Regions from separate parts of the Homo sapiens genome. Here region 2 is linked to region 1. A link means that fine-mapping ties the variant in region 1 to the expression of a gene that starts in the linked region. Tissue or cell type: whole blood. Region 1 holds a variant in brackets; the other region holds the start of a gene. All regions are shown on one strand. Distances are between the middles of the regions.

What was found. PIP is the estimated chance that this variant, and not a neighbour inherited with it, causes the effect.
Region 2: ZFP82 starts here. The variant in region 1 is fine-mapped to the expression of ZFP82 in whole blood (TOPMed, PIP above 0.99).

What each region holds. Positions count from the first base shown.
Region 1 is chr19:36,363,032-36,371,135 of GRCh38, forward strand. ZFP14 (ZFP14 zinc finger protein) reads right to left here. Exons shown (of 5, transcript NM_020917.3): 2 at 4,853-4,940. The coding sequence starts at 4,861. Among named protein-coding and RNA genes, the nearest start is that of ZFP14, 12 kb to the right of the region's middle. The variant A/G (reference allele first, on the strand shown) is at 5,011.
Region 2 is chr19:36,414,359-36,422,462 of GRCh38, forward strand. ZFP82 (ZFP82 zinc finger protein) reads right to left here and starts at 4,286. Exons shown (of 5, transcript NM_133466.4): 1 at 4,134-4,286. It also overlaps the pseudogene ACOT4P1. RefSeq lists enhancers at 3,655-3,814, 7,345-8,027.

The DNA.
Region 1 (8,104 bases):
ATATCTAATCTTTATGGATGTGAATAATCTTCTTGCTTGTCACTATCTATCATCTCTTGAACATTGTTTTTTTGTTCCTGAGTTACAGGACACTGAATCATGAAGATATCATAAAGATATCACCTGGACACCATTATCAATCATATTCTTTTCTTTTCTTTTTTTTTTTTTTTTTTTTTTGAGACGGAGTCTCGCTCTGTCGCCCAGGCTGGAGTGCGGTGGCGTGATCTCGGCTCATTGCAAGCTCCGCCTCCCAGGTTCACGCCATTCTCCTGCCTCAGCCTCCCAAGTAGCTGGGACTACACGCATCCGCCACCACGCCCGGCTAATTTTTTTTGTATTTTTAGTAGAGACGGGGTTTCTCCGCGTTAATTAGGATGGCCTCGATTTCCTGACCTCGTGATCCGCCCGCCTCGGCTTCCCAAAGTGCTGGGATTACAGGCGTGAGCCACCGCGCCCGGCCCCCTGTATCAATCATTTTCAATGAGGAGTCATTTTGCTCCCCAAAAGACATCCGGCCATATCTGGAGACAATTTTGGTTGTCACAATCGGAGGAAAGGGTGTGAGTGTTACAGGCATCTAATGGGTAGAGGCCAGGGACACTGTTAGACATCCTACAATGCACGGGACGGCCCCCTACAATAAAAGACTCCCCATCAAAATGTCAATAGTTCAGGCCAGGTGCAGTGGCTCAAGCCTGTAATCCCAGCACTTTGGGAGGCCAAGGCAGGCAGATCACTTGAGGTCAGGAGTTTGAGACCAACCTTGTCAACATGGTGAAACCCTGTCTCTACTAAAAACACAAAAATCAGCTGGGTGTGGTGGTGGGAGCCTGTAATCTCAGCTACTCAGGAGGCTGACGCAGTAGAATCACTTGAACCCAGGAGACGGAGGTTGCAGTGAGCTGAGATCACACTACTGCACTCCAGCCTAGGCGACAGAGTAAGACTCGGTCTCAAAAAAAAAAAAAAGTCAATAGTTCCAAGGTTGAGAAATCCTGCTCTAGACCAGCACATCCTGTAAAAATACACAATGGACCTCGTTCCTGGCATTCTTCTCCGCAGGAGGAAATCTCCATTGATTGAGGTATCTATTTGCAGTCCTATTCTGATCACATCCTATTCACCCTGTTGGTGAAGAAGGGATCCCTGCCCTAAAAAGTACAAGACAATCAAATAGCCCACACTGGACAGATGAGATTGACAGCAATTTGTTCGATGCATATATTCAGAGCCTGAGAGAGGACATCATACATCACGCAGGGGCACAAGGGGATTGCATTTAAGAACAGCATGAACAAGCAGGGGTATGGGAGGCAGGCTTTACAGTAATAACAAGGTGAGGTGTTCCCTGGTTCCTGCAGTGGTATGTGATTGGCTTGTTTGAATAATTCCATAGGCTAGCAGGGAGGTGAAACCCATTAGGTTGAGGACGACGAGGGGTGTAACTGGTCTAGCTCATAGGAGAACTAGCTGGGTAGGAAGCCTTTCCCGCTGGGTGTGGGCATATCGGGTAAGAGCAGGGGAACTCATGGTTAGGCCTTTAGGGTCTTGACAAAGTTGTCAAGGCACACATGAAAGTTTAGGCCTTATCTTATAAGGCCCAATTACATCCCTACCCAATCCACCTAAAAGCCTTACATAGTATAGGGTCTCAACATACATAAAAACTAAGGTCAGTCAACACTAAATCCTATCCTATATACTTGAAAAACTCAGATCTGTGGAGAAGTTTAGAGTTTTCCCTATAAGCAGTCAGATAAGACCAAATTCTCTCTTTCATCAAATCACAGATCTTAAGGAAAGCTCAAAATAGGGACCTCCCACTTAACATCAGTAATCCATTCCTGAAAATCAGACATTCTAACGATTAACCAGGTACCTATTTTCCCATCATTTTATTTACTTTCTTTCCTTCCTTCCTCCTTCTTTCTTTCTTTGCTTTCTTTCCTTTTTCTTTTTCTTTTTTTTTTTTTTTTTTTTTTTTTTTTTGACAGGGTCTCACTCTGTTGCCCAGGCTGTTGCCTAGGCTGGAGTGCAGTGATGTGATCACAGCTCACTGCAACATTGAATTCCTGGCCTCAAGCAATGGCCTCCCAAAGGAGGGATTACAGGCGTGAGCCACTACACACGGCCTCCCATTATGTGAAATCAGAGCATTATAATGAGTTATATGTCAATTCCATCCCTCCAACTAGCTTTGCACATTTTCCTCCAATATAGAACTATGGGACACAGTGGGTCAGTACACACACAACATCTTTGCTTTTAGTATTTTAATCATCTCTTTTACTAAATTCATTTTTCTCATTTGCTTGGTTTCTTTCTCCACAATTTTCTTCAATACTTTTCCAATCTTTTAGGAACTCATTTTACACTAGACAAAAATGAGGGCTATATGTGAAGCACAGTATGGAAAAGTGTTTCCAACAAGAACGTGATAGCGGGAACGGCTGACACTCAGGATGGTGCTCTGTTACCTCCTCAGTCACTAGCAGCACCAGGTACACACATGCCCTTGAATGATAGTTATACACATTTCAAAACATCTGCAGATGGTTCCATTGGTCTAACAACTGTATTTGGGATATAACAAGATTTTTCCTGGATGTTATTTTTGTTTTTTAAAAAAAAGCATTGTATTGGATCAGGTGCGGTGGATCACACCTATAATGCCAATACTTTGGGAGGCTAAAGTGGGAGAATCACTTGAGCCCAGGAGTTTGAGTTCAGCTTAGGCAACATAGTGGGACCCCATCTCTACAAAAAATTTTAAAAATTAGCCAAGAGTGGTGGCACGTGCCTGTAGTCCCCAGTACTCAGGAGGCTGAGGTGGGAGGATCACCTGAGCCTGGGAGGTCGGGGCTGCAGTTAGTTGGGATCATACCACCGCATTCCGGCCTGGGTGACTGAGTGAGACCTTCTGTCAAAAAAAAAAAAAGGCTGGGTGTCATGGTGGATGGTGGCTCATGCCTGTAATCTCAGCACTTTGGGAGGTCGAGGCAGGTGGATCACTTGAGGTCAGGAGTTTGAGACCAGCCTGGCCGACATGGTGAAACCCCGTCTCTACAAAAAAAAACACAAAAAATAGCTGGGAGTGGTGGTGGGCGCCTGTAACTCCAGGTACTCAGAAGGCTGAGGCAGGAGAATCGCTTGAACCCAGAAAGCGGAGGTTGCAGTGAGCCGAGATCCTGCCACTGCACTCCAGCCTGGGCGACAGAGCGAGACTCTGTCTCAAAAAAAAAAAATTGTATTGAACTATATGATTCCACTTGAACAAAGTTCTTGTTTTGTTTTGTCTTTTTGAGATAGGGTCTGGCTCTGTCATCCAGGCTGGAGTGCAATGGTGCGATCTCGGTTCACTGTAACCTCCACCTCCCGAGCTCTAGTCATTCGCCCACCTCAGCCTCCTGAGTAGCTGCGTCTATAGGTGTGCCACCATGCCCAGCTAGGTTTTGTATTTTTTGTAGAGACACGGTTTTGCCTTGTTGCCCGGGATGGTCTGGAACTCCTGAGCTTAAGCGATCTGCCCACCTCAGCCTCCCCAAGTACTGGGATTACAGGCATGAGCCACCACACCTGCCCCACTTGAACAAGGTTCCAAAAATAAGCAAAATTACATTATAGTGTTCGACATCAAGACAGTGGTTACCCTGGGCAGTAGGTGGGTGGGGAGTGACTGAAAGCATCTGAGGTGATTTCCTTTCTTGACCTGATAGCATAGATGTACTCAATTTATGAAAATTCATCCAGCCATACACTTATGGTTTGTATATTTTTTTGTATATATGTCATTCCTCCACAAAAAATTTCAAAAACGTTTTAAAAATGTCATATTGTGGCCAGGTGCAGTGGCTCATACCTGTAATCTTAGCACTCTGGGAGGCCGAGGCAGGCAGATCACCTGAGATGAGGAGTTCAAGACAATCCTGTCCAACATGGTGAAATCCCATCTCTACTAAAAATGCAAAAATTAGCCAGGTATGGTGGCGGGCACCTGTAATCCCAGCTACTTGGGAGGCTGAGGCAGGAGAATTGCTTGAACCCAGAAGGTGGAGGTTGCAGTGAGCCGAGATCATGCCACTGCACTCCAGCCTGGGTGATAAGAGTGAAACTCTGTCTCAAAAAAAAAAAAAATGTCATATTATGTATTGGGGACACCTATTTTTTCTATGTAAAACTAAGACAAAAAGCACTGTACTGAGAAAAATATACTTTTTCTGGAGTTTAAGTTTTAAAATGAAAAGCGGTTCCACTGGAAGATGTTAACAGGAGGACATTCTGCAGAGAATGCCTTCAATTTTCTCAAGGCATCTCATTTCCGCTTTCTCACAGCTATTGACAGAAGATTTTGTAGGTAGGAGATGCTCAACATTAGTGGGAGAAGAGATAGCCACATAGGATACTGGGCTATCTGTCCCAATCCTCACAGGAGGGAAAAGAACTGGAGTAGGTTCTTTTTTTTTTGAGATGGTGTCTTGCTCTGTCGCCCCAGCTGGAGTGCAGTAACGCAATCTCGGCTCACTGCAGCCTCTACCTCCCGGGTTCCAGCAATTCTCCTGCCTCAGCCTCCTGGGCGCCTGCCACCACACTGGCTAATTTTTGTATTTTTAGTAGAGACAGGGTTTCACCATGTTGGCCAGGCTGGTCTCGAACTCCTGACCTCAAGTGATCCGCCTGCCTCGGCCTCCCAAAGTGCTGGGATTACAGGCGTGAGCCATTGCGTCCAGCCATGGAGCAGGTTCTTGGATGAAGCTCTGGTAAGCAGGAAGTTTCAGAATAAAGAATGAATCTATATACATGATACAGAAATTGACAGTATTTCGAAAAGGACAGAGAAACATTAACTTACATGGGCCATGGTTTTAGAACTGCAAAAACTGGTCAGTCCTTTTCAAGATTTCTCTGTTGGAGAACTATGGAGTCCTGATAAGCCAGAGCTGAAAGAAGAAAAAGAAACCATGAAATAAGCTGCGCCACAGAGCTCCCAAAATGATGTACATCATAAAT[A/G]TGAAAACTTTTTTCTCTTCCATTCCTTCTCCCAAACTACTTCCATTGGCTTTTCCAAAGTACCACCCACCACTATGCCCATCCCTATCCTATACCCACATATAACTGGGGAAAAGTATAGGGAGTCTAAAGAGAAACAAGCTCTGGCCGGGCACGGTGGCTCTCGCCTGTAATCTCAGCACTTTGGGAGGCCAAGGCAGTTGGAGCACCTGAGGTCGGGAGTTCGAGACCAGCCTGACCAACATGCAGAAACCCTGCCTCTACTAAAAATACAGAATTAGCTGGGCGTGGTGGCACATGCTTGTAATCCCAGCTACTCGGGAGGCTGAGGCAGGAGAATCGCTTGAACCCAGGAGGCGGAGGTTGCGGTGAGCTGAGATTGCGCCATTACACTCCAGCCTGGGCAACAAGAGCAAAAAAGAAAGAAATACAAGCTCTGAAGAAATAGGTGACAAATGATGAACTTGGTGTAGAAGCCTAGCTACTTCTGCAAGAGGATTTCTGACCAGGTCGCCCTCTAGCAATGTGGATCTGGTCCAGACACTGGATTACTCAGATTTGTTCTGAGCAGCTCCTCCTCACTCTAGGACAACTTTTCAGGACTGAGAAGGGCCCTGAATCCTGCCCCTAGAATCCTGCCTGAACTACCTAAACACAGCAACTAAAAGACCACACAGATTGAACCTGGCAGCTTCTGCCAATGTGAGGCTACCCTTGCCTTCCCCAGCCAGGAAAGCTCGCCACTCCAGTTTTCCAATCAGGGCCTCCCATACCATGACATCCTTCACCACTCCTTCTCTTTTATTGATTAATTTTTTTTTAGATGGAATTTCACTCTGTCACCCAGGCTGGAGTGCAATGGCACGATCTCAGCTCACTGCAACCTCCATCTCCCGGGTTCAAGTGATTATCCTGCCTCAGCCTCCTGAGTACAGGTACATGCCACCACGCCCAGCTAATTTTTATATTTTTATATTTTTAGTAGAGACGGGGTTTCGCCATGTTGACCAGGCTTGTCTTGAACTCCTGACCTCAGGTGATCCGCCCGCCTCGGCCTCCCAAAGGGCTGGGATTACAGGCGTGAGCCACCGTGCCCGGCCCCACTTTCCTTTTAGTATCCAAGCTGGGGACAGAAGGGATTCATGATTCCTGCAGTTGGTCAACAATATTCATTGAGAACCTCTATGTGTTGGGTACTTCATACACATTGTCAGTTGTCCTCGGTACTGTTCTGCAATGTAGTGCTCTCCTTTTAATAGCTCAGGAAACTAATGCCCAGGGGTCAAATCAGTTAAGTTGCCAACATTTGTTTTGAATCTACATTTCTCTAACTAAAAAGCCCGTTTCTTTTTTCTTTTTTTGGTTTTGTTTTTTTTGTTTGTTTTTGCAGACAGAGCCTTGTTCTGTCACCCAGGCTGAACTGCAGTGGCATGACCATGGCTCACTGTAACCTCTGCCTCCAGGGTTCAAGCGTTTCTCCTGCCTCAGTCTTCCAAGTAGCTGGGATTACAGGCGCCTGCCACTACGCCCGGCTAATTTTTATATTTATAGTAGAGACAGGGTTTCACCATGTTGCCCAGGCTGGTCTCGAACTCCTGACCTCAATTGATCCACCCGCCTCAGCCTCCTAAAATGTTGGGATTACAGGCGTGAGCCACCACACCCAGCCTAAAAGCCAGTTTCTCTTTCAACTCAGGTATTTGTCTCTGAAGCAAGGATTTCTACTTCACCAGGAGAAATCTGATCATCAGCAATTCACTAAAAAAAAGAGGAATAACTAACAGTAGGTTTTGTTTTGTTTTGTTTTTTCAAAAACACGGTCTCACTCTGTTACCCAGGCTGGACTACAGTGGCATGATCTTGGCTCACAGCAGCCTCGACCTCCCGGGCTCAAGCAATCCTCCCACCTCAGATTCCCAAGCAGTTGGGACTATAGTTGGGCACCACCATGCCCAGCTAATAATCTTTCAAAAAATGCTAAATCTCAGAAGATAGCAAAATAGTTCTTTCCATCTATGGTCCACCTGCAGAAACATCAGTTTGAGCAATTATCCATCAACAAAAATGCCTTCACAATAGCTAAGGCAACCAGGTGAGAGATCGCAGTACTGGGTTGTAGCACAATAATAAGAAAAGAAGCATTGAAGAGTGCAGGAAGGACGGCTCGACATTACCCATGTCACCCCTCCCCAGCTCAAGGCAGCACAGTGTAGACAGAGGTATTGCCCACTTGGGGAAAAGTCAGGGAAGTGAGCACAGAACTTTGCCTGTTCCCTAACACCAGGCCCGCCATAGTAAAACCCAGCAACAGGGAGACTCCCAACCCCAGACTCCAGGCCAGTAGCCACAGACTGACCCTCTAGACCTGCTCTGGCATCAGGAAAGATCATGCAGCCCAGGCTTCAGGCTTGCATGATGAACTCCATCTCCAGGCTGCCACCACCATCAGGCTGACATCAGAGGCCCTGGGCTCCAACAGCCCTTAGCAACAGGCAAGCCTCAGTGGCCTCTGCAATCAGGCACATAACAGTATGGCACCAGTCACAGTGGTCTCAGGCTTTGAGCGTGCCCCAGCACTGCACCAGCCAGAGTGGCCCTGGGCTTGGGGCATGCTATGTGCAACACCAGAGAATGTGGTTCCAGCCTTTTGGAGCATCCCAGCACTATACCCACCGTAGCAGCCCCAGCCTTAAGGACCAAACCAGACAGGCTGCCCAGAACCACTGCATGGGCTATTGATGGGCTTTCCCAGATGAACCTCATTCTGCAAAGACTGGAATAAATACACAGTCCTTTCAAGTGTGCAGACATCAGTGCACGGTCACAAAGATCAACAACAATCAGGGAAACATGACATCGTCAATAGGACAACATAAAGTGCCAGTGATTGACTCTAAAGAAATGGAGATGTCTGAACTGCCTGATAAAGAATTAAAACAGGCTGGGCACAGTGGCTCACACTTGTAATCCCAGCACTTTGGGAGGCCGAGGCAGGCGGATCACGAGGTCAGGAGATCGAGTCCATCCTGGCTAACACGGTGAAACCCCATCTCTACTAAAAAATACAAAAAAATTAGGCGGGCATGCTGGTGGG
Region 2 (8,104 bases), 51 kb after region 1:
TTCTACTTTTTTTTTTTTTTTTTTGAGACACAATCTTGCTCTGTCGCCAGGCTGGAATGCAGTGGCATGATCTCAGCTCACTGCAATCTCTGCCTCCCGGGTTCAAGTGATTCCCCTGCCTCAGCCTCCCAAGTAACTGGGACTGCAGGAGCATGCCACCACACCCGGCTGATTTTTTGTATTTTAGTACAGACAGGGTTTCACCATGTTGGCCAGGATGGTCTCGATCTCCTGACCTCGTGATCTGCCTGCCTCGGCCTCCCAAAGTCTTGGGATTATAGAGATGAGCCACCGCACCTGGCCTATGTAATTCTTCTTAATAATGTTATCAAAAAAGGATTCACAGAAATCAAAAAGTAGAGCAAGGCCCCTGTTACTTTCCATCCCTAGTAGCTCCAAAGGGACACCATTCCATATCATAAAACCAGCTCAAGAATTTTGCTTTGATAAGGTATCATATTAAATACTTTTTTTTTTTTTTTGAGACAGTTTCGCTCCTGTTGCCCGGGCTGGAATGCAATGGCAAGATCTCGGCTCACTGCAACCTCCACCTTCCGGGTTCAAGTGGTCCTCATGCCTCAGCCTCCCAAGCAGCTGGGATTACAGGCATGCACCACCACGCCTGGCTAATTTTGTATTTTTAGTAGAGACAGGGTTTCACCATGTTAGTCAGGCTGGTCTGGAACTCCTGACCTCAGGTGATCCGCCCACCTTGGCCTCCCAAAGTGCTGGAATTACAGGCGTGAGCCACCAGGCCCAACCTCTTTTTCCTTTTTCAAACAAAGTGTTGCAGAGTCTTTGTCTCCTTAAATGATCAATTGTTGTGATTCTATTTTGGAAAACAAACACATGTGCACAAGTGCACAGAAAAAAATGGAAAAGCAAACATTAGAATAGTAATATTTATTGTGGATGGTGAGACTACGGGCAACTTAAATTTTATTCTTATAGAGTGAAGATGACTGGGTGGTAGGGGATGGAGAAAATCTGTTCTGAATAGTACTAAATATAGTTGGCAGCTTAAACCAGGACTTTCTTTTTTTTTTGGAGACTGAGTCTCACTCTGTCACCCAGGCTGGAGTGTAATGGCAGGATCTCGGCTCACTGCAACCTCTGCCTCATGGGTTCAAGCAATTCTTCTGCCTCAGCCTCCCAAATAGCTGGGATTACAGGCAGGCGCCACTGTGCCCAGCTAATTTTTCTATTTTTAGTAGAGACAGGTTTTACCATATTGGCCAGGTTGGTCTCAAACTTCTGACCTCAGGTGATCTGCCCACCTCAGCCTCCCAAGTGTTGAGATTACAGGCGTGAGCCACTGCGCCCAGCCAATTAAACTATTTTCATACACATAGAATTAAAAACAGAGTTGTGAAGAAGGAATATCTTTTAGTTGTTAAGAAAATTGTGATTCTATAAGCCTGTGACATGAGTGGGTTTTGGGAAAATAAACAACAGTGTGGCACAAATAAGTAACACCCATCAGTTCTTTAACTGTTCTTCATCAAAACGATGGGCTATTTTCACTCTCAAGATTCTTCTATGAATGAACACAATCAAGCGACATTCCTAAATTCAGTAAAAGTATACCAAAGCAGACAGAACAGTGTGGTAAACAACAGTTTATCTTTTTTTCTCCACTAAGAAACTAGTTTTATATTATGTATAATCCTTGCAAAATGTTTTATAAATCTCTAGCTTATTAAGAGCGATTCATACATGATTAAAGGTTTTGTGAGTCATCTTGTTCAAAACTATTGCTTAGACAACATCGATCACAAGCTTTTTTTCCTTCTCATAATTAACAGTATTTATTAATGGCAAAAAGCTGCATCACATGGAGTGTGGCTTATTTAATCATTTCCTACTATTAGACACTAATTTTGTGTCTAACATTGAAAAACATTCTCAAAGGTTACAGACTTTGATTCTAGGCCAGTAGATCTGAATCTTAATGGATCATGTTTGATAATCTCATTAAATTACATATTTTCTCCCCATAAAAGTGGCATATTAACAGATATCTATAACAATTTTACGTACAATTTCAAAGAGTATCTGGTCCCCTGAAAGCCTCAAATGAATTCAAATTACTTCTGGTTAAGAATTCCTGTTCTATGGCCGGGCACGGTGGCTCATGCCTGTAATCCCAGCACTTTGGGAGGCCAAGGCGGGCAGATCACCTGAGGTCGGGAGTTCAAGACCAGCCTGACCAACATGGAGAAACCCCGTCTCTACTAAAAATACAAGATTAGGCAGGCGTGGTGGTATATGCCTGTAATCCCAGCTACTAGGGTGGCTGAGGCAGGAGAATCGCTTGAACCTGGGAGGCGGAGGTTGCGGTGAGCTGGGATCACACCATTGCACTCCAGCCTGGGAAATAAGAGCGAAACTCCGTCTCAAAAAAAAAAAAAAAAAAAAGAATTCCTGTTCTAGGCTGGGGGCGGTGGCTCATGCCTGTCATTCCAGCACTTTGGGAGGCCGAGGCAGGCAGATCACTTGAGGCCAGGAGTTTGAGACCAGCCTGGCCAACATGGTAAAACCCGGTCTGTACTAAAAATACAAAAATTAGCTGGGTGTGGTGGTGCAGGCCTGTAATCCCAGCTACTTGGGAGGCTGAGGTATAAGAATCGCTTGAACCACGGAAAGGGAGGTTGCAGTGAGCTGAGATTGTGCCACTGCACTCCAACCTGGGTGACAGAGCAAGACCCTGTCTCAAAAAAAAAAAAAAAAAAAAAAAAAAAGAATTCCTGTTTTAGACTATTTAAGCATCTGATCTGGCTCATTTATTTTTTACTAGGAAATACTCACCACAATTGGCTTAGTATTTTCATTTTCCCCCCATCTATAGAAGGCTGATGTAGAATTGCTCCAAATCACTACTTAAGAATACATAACTAAGGTTTATTAAGTACTAACGAGGTCTCAGGAACTGTTCTAAGAACTTTACACATAGTAATTAAAAGAAGGCCCACAGAAGTAATGAAAAACATCTACCAAATGGGTATGTGCATACAGGCTCTCGGGAGGGGACCTAGGTATCAGCTCAATGGACAGGACATTTATGGAGAATGAAACAAATATTCTCATGTCCTAAGAAATAAGAATGCATTTCACAGAAGAAAGCAGAAACACCCACTCGCCTCGACCTTGACTTAAACAGGCAACAGCAATTCATTCCTCCTCCCGCTCGGACCCCTTTTCTTAAAGAATTGGGCAGGACTGGCTAATAAGGGAACCAGGCTTTTCTTGCAGCCCAGCCTCGCATAGGGCACAATGCCCCCACCGCCCACCCACACATAACCAGAGTAACATAAGAGAGATGGTGTTGTTAACTCTTCCCAGTATCAAAGAAAGGCCAGGGTCATGGATGCCCGGGGCTAGAACTGGAGTTCACAATAGCTTCCTGGAAGCAATGCTGTGGTTCTGAAACCTGCAGCTGGACTCTTCAGAGTTGTGAGTGCACGTGCGTGGGTCCGGGTCCGCGAGGAGGTGGTGTGGGAGTCCCTTCCAGGAGCAAGCCTGGGCGGGAGCGGGGGCTCGTTCAGTTCTAATATTCCTATCCCAAGGTCGGGTCTGAGCCTTGTTTCGCTGTTGCCCAGGCTGGAGAGTAGTGGTGCTATCATAGCTCGCTGCAGCCTCAATCTCCTCCTAGGCTCAAGCCATCCTCCCGCCTCAGCCTCTCGAGTGGCTGGGACCACAGGAGCACGCCATCACACCCGGCTCATTTTTTAAATTTCTGGTACAGATGGGAGTTTCGCTTTGCTGCCCAGGCTGGTCTCGAACTCCTGGCTTCCAGCGATCCTCCCGCCTCGCTCTCCCAGAGCTCTGGGATTACAGATGTGAGCCACCTGGTCCGGCCTAGTCTGCGCGTTTCTGCTGGGAGTCTTTGGCGTGCAGAAACTGACCGAGGGCCATTTCTCTGCAGCTGGGCCCGGTGTGGGCAGAGGATGCTGGGGTCAGTCACGCACTCCACGGCCACAACAACCTTCGCTCATACAATAGTCTCTGCACCCAAGTCAGCCGCACAGACTCCGTCACGTCCCAGCCCCGGCCCCGTCACGCCCACGACACACACACCCGGGCCTGAGGCGCGGGCTCCCGCCCCTCTGCGATACTGCAGTGGCCCCGCTTACCTCTCTTTACCCCCTGGGCCGCAGCGCTTTTCCTACAGATTACCAGGACCGACGCTCCGGGCCAGGACTGCTCACTCGGGGCGCGAACCCGAGGCACAGCGATGCCCGAACGGAGGAAGCCGCTGCCGGGTCACGCCACAATCCCCGGGGCCTAACGGGCTGCGCGCGGAGGCTGCTGGGAGGGCCGGGCGCGCTCACGGAGTGCGCAGGCGCGGCCAGTCTCAAGGGTCCGCTCGCTGGTGCAGCCCCTGCTCTGCGTGAACCCGGAGCCGGAGCTAGGTCCGTCCCAGCGAGGCTGCGCTTCGAGTCCCTTAGCGCCTGGGGACGGCGCGGCAGGGCCTGGAGGGGAGCGGGGACAGATGGCTGGCGCGTTAAAGAGGGGCGCCCGCGACCGCCTCTCTATAGTGCCAACTAGGGAGCCCTGTGAGCGAGGACGGCGCTGCGAGTCTGTCCCTGGCGCGCTCCTGGGTGGGATTCTTTCACTGGGTGTGGCTGTTGGGATTTGAGACCGTGTGACTCCGGAGATTCGGGGAAGCCAGTTCCTATATTTTCCATTTCTGTATTTTTAAATGGTAAAAACAATGAAAAGGAGAACAATATTTTGTGAAATATGAAAATCATACATGTCAAATTTCAGTGTCCATAAATAAAAGTTTTATTGGAACATAGCCGTGTTTGATTGTGTACTGTCTATTGCTATATTTGAGCTACAAGGACAGACTCGAGTAGTTACACAGACCAGATGGCCCACGCAGCCTAAAATACAGTCAGTTCTCACTATTCACAGTAGTTATGGTCTATAAACTTGCTACAAACACGGAATTAGTGAATACCATTCCACTGCTTCTAGGGGAAATACAGGGTTAGTTTCCTGTAAGCATCTGGTCACATTTTAGTCAACCGATGAATGCATAAGCTTATTTTATTGTGTTTATTTTCTTTTTTTCTTTTTTTTTTTTTTTTTTGAGATAGGGTCTTGCTCTGTCACCCAGGCTGGAGTGCAGTGGTGGGATCTTGGCTCACTGCAACCTCCTCCGCCTCCCGGGTTCCAGCAATTCTCCTGCCTCAGCCCCCAGAGTAGCTGGGAATACAGATGCATGTCACCATGCCCAGCTGATTTTTGTATTTTGTAGAAACGGAGTTTCACCATGTTGACCAGGCTGGTCTCAAACTCCTGACCTCAGGTGATCCACCCGCCTTGGCCTCCCAAAAGTGCTGGGATTATAGGCATGAGCCACCGCGCCTGGCCTTATTGTGTTTCTATTTAAACACTTTAATATATATTATTGATTCATTAACATTGAACTCATGGCCAACAGCTCCATAACTCATGCCTGAATGAAGCTTATCTAACACATGTATTTTTTCTGTAAGACACATGACCGCTTTCTCATTCATAGGAACATCAACAGCACTTTAGTACTACTACATTTGGGGTCCCTTTGAAACAGCAAAATCACCAGCAAAAAACAAAAATATGAGAAGCCAAGGTACTAAATGGACTGCAAAAAGGGTACCTGTTTACAGTATGAGAGCTGAAATAAGAAGATAGAGGGTCACTTTGTTTGACTTTGGCTGAGAACATGCCTGTTAAGGGACTCAAAAAGGTTCACCGCTCTTCGGATGTCCACAAATGACCACAAAGGTGCTGCAAATATTGACTCTGGGTTTATAAAAAAGTTTTAGCAAGTAGATGAATTCACAAATTCAGAATCTGTGAATGAAGATTGACTGTATTTACTATCAGGCCCTTTAAAGAAAAAGTTTGCCAATCCCTGTTTTTATATGTCCCTCTTAGTTATACAGCTAGTGTTTAAAAACTACTTGAAATAATTATTTTCCCTGTGCCACCAATTATGTCTATAATTGATTGTACCCCATTAAATAAGCACAAAGAAAAAAGAAAGCTTTCTTTATAGAAGAAGGCCAGCTAATAACTATCAAGGGTTTGATTTTACGTGGCTTAGACACGCTGCTTCAAATGCATTTAAGATGTTTGGTTTTAACAAGGATTTTGCAACAGTATAGTGTTTTCCTTAAGTTCAATGTCATTTCTATGTCATGGCAGCTGTCACCTGCAGTTAGGTAAGACAGTGACATCATTAACATGGATGCATTTTCATGGCATGAAGGCTAGCCATTGATGGGGTAATATAACACAATTTATCAGTAAACGCTGAGTTTTCTTTGAAGTCAGTCTCTGATTTCTTACAGTGCTTGATGTCTGCCTTGCCTGCTAGTGACCAATTCCCCTGCGTCTTTACAGAGCCTTGTTACTCACTCAGTGTAAAGACAGTGGGGGAAACAAGGTTTCCCAAAGTATCCTTATGTGCAAAAGTGTTTCTTACTACTTTGGAAATACTAAGCTGAGTTTAATGTTTATTCTTTTTCTACCAACAGACACAAAAAGGACAAGCACATGCCTTAGAATATTCAATACAATTTTCTACAGCGATATGGTTAAATACTCTTCTGTCTTCACTACTTTTTTGTTTTTACTTTACTTGGAAATTTTAATTCTCTAGGAATAACGGGGCAGGAGTCTAAAATAATACTTTGTGGGAGTGAAGTATATATTTTTTTCCAAGTAAAAAAAAAAAATCAGGCCAGGCGTGATGGCTTAGGCCAGGCGTGATGACTCATGCCTGTAGTCCCACATACTCGGAAGGCCAAGGCAGGAGGATAGCTTGAGCCTGTGAGATCGAGATTACAGTGAGCTATGGATCGGCCACTGCACTCCGGGCTGGGCGACAGAGCGAGACCCTGTCTCAAAATTAAAAAAAGGAAAAAAAAAAAAAAAAAAGTCTGCGCTCCCCGGGGCCCAAGGAGAGGACCCAGGAGAGGAGTCTGGCTCCTTTTGCCTCAGACGAGTCCAGGGCGCCGGGTTAACTGGTCTAAAGTCCCAGGCGCTTTCTGGGACTGCTCAGCCACCGGCCGCTCCCGGCACCAGGGGACGCCGGACGCCCTCTGGACAATCGGCGCACTTGCCACGATCTTGGACGGGCCTCGGGCCTCGACCTTAAGATTCCCCGCTCCAGCTCCGAGATGTCAGCAACGCTGATCCTGGAGCCCGCGGGCCGCGGCTGCCGAGACAAGCCGGTGCGCATCACCATGCGCGGCCTGGCTTCGGAGCCGCTGGACACGCTGCGCGCGCGTCCCTGCGCGACGAGAAGGCTGGGCTCTTCCGCTACTGCGCCGACGCCCGCGGCGAGCTGGACCTGGAGCGCGCGCCCGTGCTGGGCGGCAGCTTTAGGGGGCTAGAGTCCATGGGGCTGCTCTGGGCCCTGGAATCCAAGAAACCTTTTTGGCGCTTTCTGAAGCGGGACGTACAGATTCCCTTTATCGTGGAGTTGGAGGTGCTGGACGGCCACGACCCCGAGCCTGGACGGCTGTTGTGACAGGCGCGGCACGAGCGCGACTTCCTCCCACAAGGGGTGCGGAGCGATTCGGTGCGCGCGGGCCGGGTGCGCGCCACGCTCTTCCTGCCGCCAGGACCTGGACCCTTCCTAGGGATCATTGGCATCTTTGGTAATGGAGGGAGCCTGTTGGAATATCGAGCCAGCCTCCTTGCTGGCCATGGCTTTGCCACGTTCGCTCTAGCTTGTTATAACTTTGAAGATCTCCCCAAGAACGTGGACAACATACCCCTGGAGTACTTCGAAGAAGCCCTATGCTACATGCTTCAACATCCCCAGGTAAAAGGCCCAGGCACTGGGCTTTGGGGCATTTCTCTAGGAGCTGATATTTGTCTCTCAATGGCCTCATTCTTGAAGAATGACTCAGACACAGTTTCCATCAATGGATCCGGGATCAGTGGGAACAGAGGCATAAACTGTAAGCAGAATAGCATTCCACCATTGGGCTATGACCTGAGGAGAATCAAGGTAGCTTTCTCAGGCCTCGTGGACGTCGTGGATATAAAGAATGATCTTGTAGGAGGGTATAAGAACCCCAGCATGATTTCAATGGAG